Homo sapiens: one gene and its partner. The protein of the gene in region 1 purifies or fractionates together with the protein of each later gene. This does not show direct contact. Each region holds a gene or a part of one and is shown in the gene's direction. Other genes may lie near its edges. The genes, in order: GUSB and CPOX.

The links.
Region 2: the proteins of GUSB (region 1) and CPOX fractionate together in Homo sapiens (co-fractionation; one large-scale study listed by BioGRID). This does not show direct contact.

The regions. Positions count from the first base shown.
Region 1 is NC_000007.14:65,972,142-65,975,953, reverse strand, and holds part of GUSB (beta-glucuronidase isoform 1 precursor), read left to right. Parts: intron 1-882; coding exon 883-1,035; intron 1,036-1,249; coding exon 1,250-1,428; intron 1,429-1,512; coding exon 1,513-1,659; intron 1,660-3,812. UniProt on the Homo sapiens protein: Plays an important role in the degradation of dermatan and keratan sulfates.
Region 2 is NC_000003.12:98,583,513-98,587,324, reverse strand, and holds part of CPOX (oxygen-dependent coproporphyrinogen-III oxidase, mitochondrial precursor), read left to right. Parts: intron 1-1,106; coding exon of another isoform or gene 1,107-1,107; exon of another isoform or gene 1,108-1,659; intron 1,660-1,665; coding exon 1,666-1,884; intron 1,885-3,812. UniProt on the Homo sapiens protein: Catalyzes the aerobic oxidative decarboxylation of propionate groups of rings A and B of coproporphyrinogen-III to yield the vinyl groups in protoporphyrinogen-IX and participates to the sixth step in the heme biosynthetic pathway.

The DNA.
Region 1 (3,812 bases):
TCAGCAGGAGCCCAAGACAGGTGGATGGGCAGGCATGGTCCTCTGAGCTTTCTGATGTTTCTCACCCTTGGTGGGAGGCCCATTTTCTTTTTTTTTTTTTTTTTTGAGATGGTCTCACTCTGTCACCCAGGCTGGAGTGCAATGGCCTGATCACAGCTCACTGCAGCCTTGAACTCTCAGCCTGCAGCAGTCCTCCTGCCTTGGCCTCCTGAGTAGCTGGGACTACAGGCACATGCCACCATGTCTGGCTAAATAAAAAAAATTTTGTAGCCTGGGCAGAGTGACTCATGCCTGTAATCTCAGCATTTTGGGAGGCTGAGGTGGGTGGATCACTTGAGGCCAAGAGTTCAAGACCAGCCTGGCCAACATGGTGAAACCCCATCTCTACTAAAAATATGAAAATTTGCTGGGCATGGTGGCGAACACCTGTAATTCCAGCCACTCGGGAGGCTGAGGCAGGAGAATTGCTTGAACTCAGGAGGCAGAGGCTGCAGTGAGCTGAGATCACACCACTGCACTCCAGCCTGGGGGACAGACTGAGACTGTCTCAGAAGAAAAACATTTTTTTTTTATAGAGATGGGGTCTCAGTCTGTCAGCAGGCTGGTCTTCAACTCCTGGACTCAAGTGATCCTCCTGCCTTAGCCTCCCAAAGTGTGGGAACTCCAGGCATGAGCCACCTTGTCTTGTCAAAGGGAAGGCCATGTTTTGAAGGGCAGGTTCCCAGGGTCAGCCAGGGTAGGGCAGAACCTCTGATTGCTGCATCTCTGCTTACAGGCCCAGAGGCAGCTGCTGGGGTGCACGAGGGGCCTTCCTGCTGGAGGGCAGGCCGGATGGGGCTCAGGCTGTCGGGGTGCTCACACCTGGTGCTTTGGCTGTCATAGGTGCAGCTGACTGCACAGACGTCACTGGGGCCTGTGTCTGACTTCTACACACTCCCTGTGGGGATCCGCACTGTGGCTGTCACCAAGAGCCAGTTCCTCATCAATGGGAAACCTTTCTATTTCCACGGTGTCAACAAGCATGAGGATGCGGACGTGTGTTGGGGCTCCTGGGTCCTTGTCGGGGCTGCTTCTGGTCACCCTCCACTTTCGCCTTCCCTGTGTCCTGCAGTTGAGGGCAGCTCAGGGCAATGAGGCAAATGGCTCCAAATGGAGAGGGGGCTCATGGGGTGGCTCTCCAGGGTCCTGGCTCTCAGAGGAAGTGCAGCTTCGACAGGGACAGGGGTCACTTGGCTCTGCTATCTCCTAGATCCGAGGGAAGGGCTTCGACTGGCCGCTGCTGGTGAAGGACTTCAACCTGCTTCGCTGGCTTGGTGCCAACGCTTTCCGTACCAGCCACTACCCCTATGCAGAGGAAGTGATGCAGATGTGTGACCGCTATGGGATTGTGGTCATCGATGAGTGTCCCGGCGTGGGCCTGGCGCTGCCGTGAGTCTCTGCTGTGCACCTGCTCCGCCTGCCCAGCCCGGGGGCGTCACCGTGACCCTCTGTCCCTTCCCTCCTGGCCCGCAGGCAGTTCTTCAACAACGTTTCTCTGCATCACCACATGCAGGTGATGGAAGAAGTGGTGCGTAGGGACAAGAACCACCCCGCGGTCGTGATGTGGTCTGTGGCCAACGAGCCTGCGTCCCACCTAGAATCTGCTGGCTACTACTTGAAGTGAGTGCTCCCTCCCTGCCCTCGGCTAGAGTGGGAAGGAGACCCTGGCAGGTGGCTGGCCTCGGTGGGCATGTGCTGTTCAAGATCGGCCTCGTGTCCAGCCCAATGGGAAGGCCGTCCATACCCAGATAGTTCAGGGGACCAAATATCTACCCACCCAAATTGTGGTTTTCTTTTTTGTTCTTTTTTTTTCTTTTTGAGATGGAGTCTCACTATATGGCCCAGGCTGGAGTGCAGTGGGGTGATCTCCGCTCATTACAACCTCTGCCTCCTGGGTTCAAGTGATTCTCCTGCCTCAGTCTCCTGAGTAGCTAGGATTACAGGCACCCATGAACCACTGTGCTGGGGCTGTTTTTTTTTTTCAAAATGGGTTCTCACTCTGGTTGCCCAGGTTGGAGTGCAGCGGTGCAGTTTTGGCTTACTGCAGCCTTGACTTCCCAGGCTCAGGTGATCCTCCTGTCTCAGCCTCCCAAGTAGCTGGGATTCTAGATGTGTGTCATCACGCCCAGCTAATTTTTGCTTTATTTTTTATTTTTTGGATATGCAGTCTCCCTCTATTGCCCAGGATGGAGTGCAGGGGCATGATCTCAGCTCACTGCAACCTCTGCCGCTCAGGTTCAAGTGATTCTCCAGCCTCAGCCTCCCGAGTAGCTGGGATTACAGGCACATGCCACCACGCCCAGCTAAGTTTTCCTTTTTTCCTTTTTATGAGATGGAGTCTCACTCCGTGGCCAGGCTGGAGTGCAGTGGCGCAATCTCGTCTCACTGCAACCTTCACCTTCCAGGTTCAAGTGATTCTCCTGCCTCAGCCTCCTGAGGAGTTGGGATTACAGGCACACGCCAACATACCCTGCTAATTTTTGTATTTTTAGCAGAGACGGGGTTTCACCATTTTGGCTAGGATGGTCTCGATCTCTTGAACTCATGATCCGCCTGCCTCGGCCTCCTGAAGTGCTCGGATTACAGGCGTGAGCTACCACGCCTGGCCAACTTTTGCATTTTTCAGTAGAGACGGGGTTTCACTATGTTGGGCCAGGCTGGTCTTGGACTACTGACCTCAGGAGATCCACTTACCTCGGCCTCCCAGAGTGCTGGGATTACAGGCGTGAGCCACCGTGCCCGGCTAATTAGAGACTGGGTTTCACCATGTTTGCCAGGCTGGCGTGGAACTCCTGGCCTCTAGTGATCCTCCTGCCTCACCTTCCCAAAGTGCTGGGATTACAGGTGTGAACCACCACACCTGGCCCCCTTTTCTTCCTTACAATCGTGCAGTTCTAACTCAGCGTTCAGAGTTGGATTTTTCACTTGGGGTAGAAGCAGGAGAGGTGGTAGAAATGCCTCTTGACTCATACAGCACACCCCAATTTCATGCAGTGCTTTGGGCTGAGCCAAGTCTGCAGCAGGCAGAAGGCTCTGAGAAGTTGTTGCAGCCTGGGCCAAGGACAATTCAGAGCTTGGGGGCACAGGGGTGTGCTCAGCAGGACTGGGTGGACAGGCCCTTTGTTGCGAAGGGGAAGAGTACAGGCTTCCAGGAGCAGGTGTTTGAGGCTTCTTTGGGAGGTGGCCAGAGGAGATGCCTGTTTTCTGGGGCAGGATTTGGAGGGAGCCACCCAGGCTGGAGAGGTTCAGCCAGGCTGTCACAGGCTTTGAAGTTTCCCATCTGAGAGCCTGGCTGTTGGAGAGTGTGGGTTTGGAACTTGAGGCTAGGGGGTTCTTTTCTGATCTGTGCCAGCCACAGCCTTCGGATAGGCAGAGCAATGATGGGGGAGGGCGTAAAAGAAGAAATGAACTGAGGAAAGAGAAGAGGAAAACAGGCTTCAACAACAGTCTAGGCTGGGTGCGGTGGCTCACGCCTGTAATCCCAGCACTTTGGGAGGCCAAGGTGGGTGGATCACCTGAGGTCAGGAGTTTGAGACCGGCGTGGCCAACAGATATTGAAACCCTGTCTCTACTAAAAATAAAACAATTAGCGGAACACAGAGGTGGGCGTCTGTAATCCCAGCTACTTGGGAGGCTGAGGCAGGAGAATTGCTTGAGCCCAGGAGGTGGAGGTTGCAGTGAGCCAAGATCATGTCATTGCACTCCAGCCTGGGCTACAGAGTGAGATTCTGTCTCTCAAAAAAACAAAAACAAAAACAGTCTGTACTGTGGAG
Region 2 (3,812 bases), on another chromosome or scaffold:
AGAGAGATTTTGAAATAGTATGATTTGGGTTAAAAACTGACTTTACAACTTTACTCAGGATATACTTTTTTAGACTATGTTAATAAAATGTGCATATAAAGAAGGCCAACAAGTCACGATTAAGGTGAATTCTACCTATGCGTCAGTTCTAGGGATTTGCATCTGTTGTTTTTTGTTGTTGTTGTTTAAGCAATTGAAGCTGTATTTAAGGTAACCTTTTAAATAGCTTTTAGTTTTTGTTTGAGCATGTTTTTCTATTTAAGGACCCTTATGCAGAGATTATCAAAAGAACTACTTTTAGGATATAAACTATTTTACAAGTTTAACAGTTAGGAAATGGCTTCTTTTTTGTTTGTTTGTTTGTTTGTTTGTTTGTTTTTTGAGATGGAGTCTCACTCTGTCGCCCAGGCTGGAGTGCAGTGGTGCGATCTCGGCTCACTGCAAGCTCTGCCTTCCGGGTTCACGCCATTCTCCTGCCTCAGCCTCCCGAGTAGCTGGGACTACAGGTGCCCACCACCACGCCTGGCTAATTTTTTGTATTTTTAGTGGAGACGGGGTTTCACCGTGTTAGCCAGGATGGTCTCGATCTCCTGACCTCGTGATCCGCCTGCCTCGGCCTCCCAAAGTGCTGGGATTACAGGCGTCAGCCACCGCGTCCGGCCCAGGAAATGGCTTCTTAGGAAACCTGTTCTAGTAGTCATAGAGGGGAAAAGACTCAAGAACAGATTAATAGTTTTATGTGCTGCCTCACAGGGTAAACTTTCATATGTCTGATATGACATATGAAATAATAAAAGATATCATCTGAACCTTTTTTTCCACCAACTTTTCCCTGTCTTTCATGCTATAGAACCATCAAATTTTATTTCTGAAAGAGACCTGAGAGATTGTTTATAGTACCTTCCTTTGGTGAATAAAGAACTCACTCAAGAGAGCTTGGATTTGCACCATGGTTGGTGTCATTGTTAGTGGAAGATTCCTGTCCTCCTGCCTCCTACAAAAGCAGCAGTGCTTCCGAAGGCAGCAGCTTATTCCAAGAAATACACTATCGATATTGGACTGTTTCTCTTTTCACTAAAGTTCTTAGAGTTTCACATCCTTTACAGAGACTTGTGTGAAATTGCCTGTTCGCCTTGAAAATAAGAGGATAAGCAGCCAGGCATGGTGGCTCACGCCTGTAATCCCAGCACTTTGGGAGGCCGAGGCAGGCAGATCACGAGGTCAGGAGATCGAGACCACCCTGGTTAACACAGTGAAACCCCGTCTCTACTATAAATACAAAAAATTAGCCAGGTATGGTGGTGGGCACCTGTAGTCCCAGCTACTTGGGACGCTGAGGCAGGAGAATGGCGTGAACCCGGGAGGCGGAGCTTGCAGTGATTCAAGATCGCACCACTGCACTCCAGCGTGGGGGACAGAGCAAGAGTCCGTCTCAAAAAAAAAAAGAAAAGAAAAGAAAAAGAGGATAAGCATTTTCTACCTTGGTGATATCTGCAAAAAATCTATCTGTCTAAAGTCCTCATTTCATTTTCATAGTTGGACAGCAAGTAAGGACACCATCCTGACATTAGTTGAGGATAGTGCTGTAACCTGAAAGGCTCACATTGATTTTCATGTCTGTTTTTTTCCATTTGATCCCTGGTTTGGCGCCGCTGTGTTTTCCAGGTGTGATGATTACTTCTTTATAGCCCATCGTGGAGAACGGCGGGGCATTGGTGGTATCTTTTTTGATGATCTTGACTCTCCGTCCAAGGAGGAGGTGTTTCGCTTTGTACAGAGCTGTGCCAGGGCTGTAGTTCCTTCTTACATTCCCCTTGTGAAAAAGCACTGTGATGACTCATTCACCCCCCAGGAGAAGCTGTGGCAGCAGCTCAGAAGAGGACGGTAAGTGACTGGAAAACGAATTCTTTCATGGCTAAGTGGGGGAGGTGGAGCAGCTCTTAATAATAGCGGGTGTTGTGTTGTCAGATACTTTGTAATAGTTGTGTTAATTTCTTTTCATAGATGAATATTAAGTGAATTAAAAGACATTGTGTAAAGTAATATTATAATTATAGCAAAGTTTATTTAATTCATCTATACATTAGAGACTCATAGTAGGCATGTAGTAAGTACTTCCTGAATTTAATTCTGCTGATTTCTCTTAGTCTTCTTGTAATACCCTCCAGCCTTATGTCAAGATGTAGACTTCATTTAATGTCTTTGCTGCTTTGTAAATTTGGAATCACACCTTTTTTCATTCATCTTAAAGATTTCACGGAAGTTATTTTAATGGAAATAATTTCAGAAATTTTGCTGGCCTCTACATTAGGCATTTTGTATCTGATGTTTTTCAACAAACCTGTAAGATAGGTGTAATCATCTTTTTTCAGAAAGTTAAGTCTGTTGCCCAAGAGACACAGCTGGTAAATTTAAGATCTCAGATGTGGAACTGGGTCAAAATGACCTCAAAACTTATAGTCTGTGTAGTGCCTAAAGTTAAGCAGCTGAAGCAGGTTTGTGCTTCTTACCATGATACTCACTTTAACCACCCTGTTCTGTGCAGTGAGCCTGGTGAGCTCAGTGGGGTGTCCAGTCTGAGGCTGTCTCCAGCCACGGTGTACTTGTAAATCCACTCCAAGTTATACAGCCTGCTGGCCCCAATCAGTTTCTCATTGCCACCTTAAATGCCTGTATACTACTGAAACATGGCTATAAAATGGATTTTCTCATTGACGTTAATTCTGTGTTAGGCAAAAGAAGCTTTGGGTACTAAAGAGGTAAAGCTTTTGCCTTAAAGAGGTCAACTTAAATAATGTTTCCAGTCTAAAGATAAACATTTGTGTATATCCTTTCTTATGACTGCCTGTGCTATCTGGTTCCCATTTATTAACTTGAAAAACATGAGAGTAAATTTTTAGAAATTTCTTAAAGAATGCATGTATTTTGGAACATGTTTTTTGTTTGCTTCCATAATTTCTTAAATATACCTTTACCACTCTTTCCTCCTTTCACTTGATACTTATTTTGGGGCCCCTGTGATGAGGCACTATCTTGGCTACCCGGTGGCTGTAACATGGACCTGCCAAAAAGAACCTCATAGTTTAGTGGGGAAGACATACCCAAGAGGACAATTTAGAACTCTGTGCAAAGTAAAGTATTCTAGTTTTGCACAAGATTTCGAAGGCAAAACTTGGCAGATTTTGTCAATACTAATTAGGTGAATCCTTTAAAACTTCATAGACAGGAGTAATGGTTTGTTTTGCGGTTTTGTTTTGTTTTTTATACATCGTTTGATGGCAGATCATTCTGAAAGTCGTTGTTGTGTATCATTGCATGTCTGGTGTCATGAGATAGGCAGAACTGTGGGGTAGTAGATTAATTTTCTATGGTATGGTGTGTGACTGTTCTTCAAAGACAGCTTCTTTCTGCCTCCCTTATCTCTGGTCCTTAAGATGGCAATAAACTCTGGGGCCTAAGATAACTCCAGTTCTTCTCTGGGGCTATCAACACTGTCTTTGGTTTCTAATACTGCAGTCATGACCAGTTTTCTGTATCCTTTTCACTTACTGTTACCCACTTTGCCTCGTCTTCACCCTGTCCAAACACCGGTCTCCCTTTCAGCAGTCAGTCTCATTCCCTTTTGACTTTACAGTCTCTTATTTGGCAATCTCATCCAGTTTCTTGCCCACAGTTACTGCTATCCTCCCCCAGACCTTGAACATCAGTCTTACAGTTATCCTTTTCATAGGAAAACAGAAATTAAAGACTTTTAACTTACTTGTTCGTTGTATTCTGGGAAAGGGAAACAGGATAAAATTTAGGCATTAGTT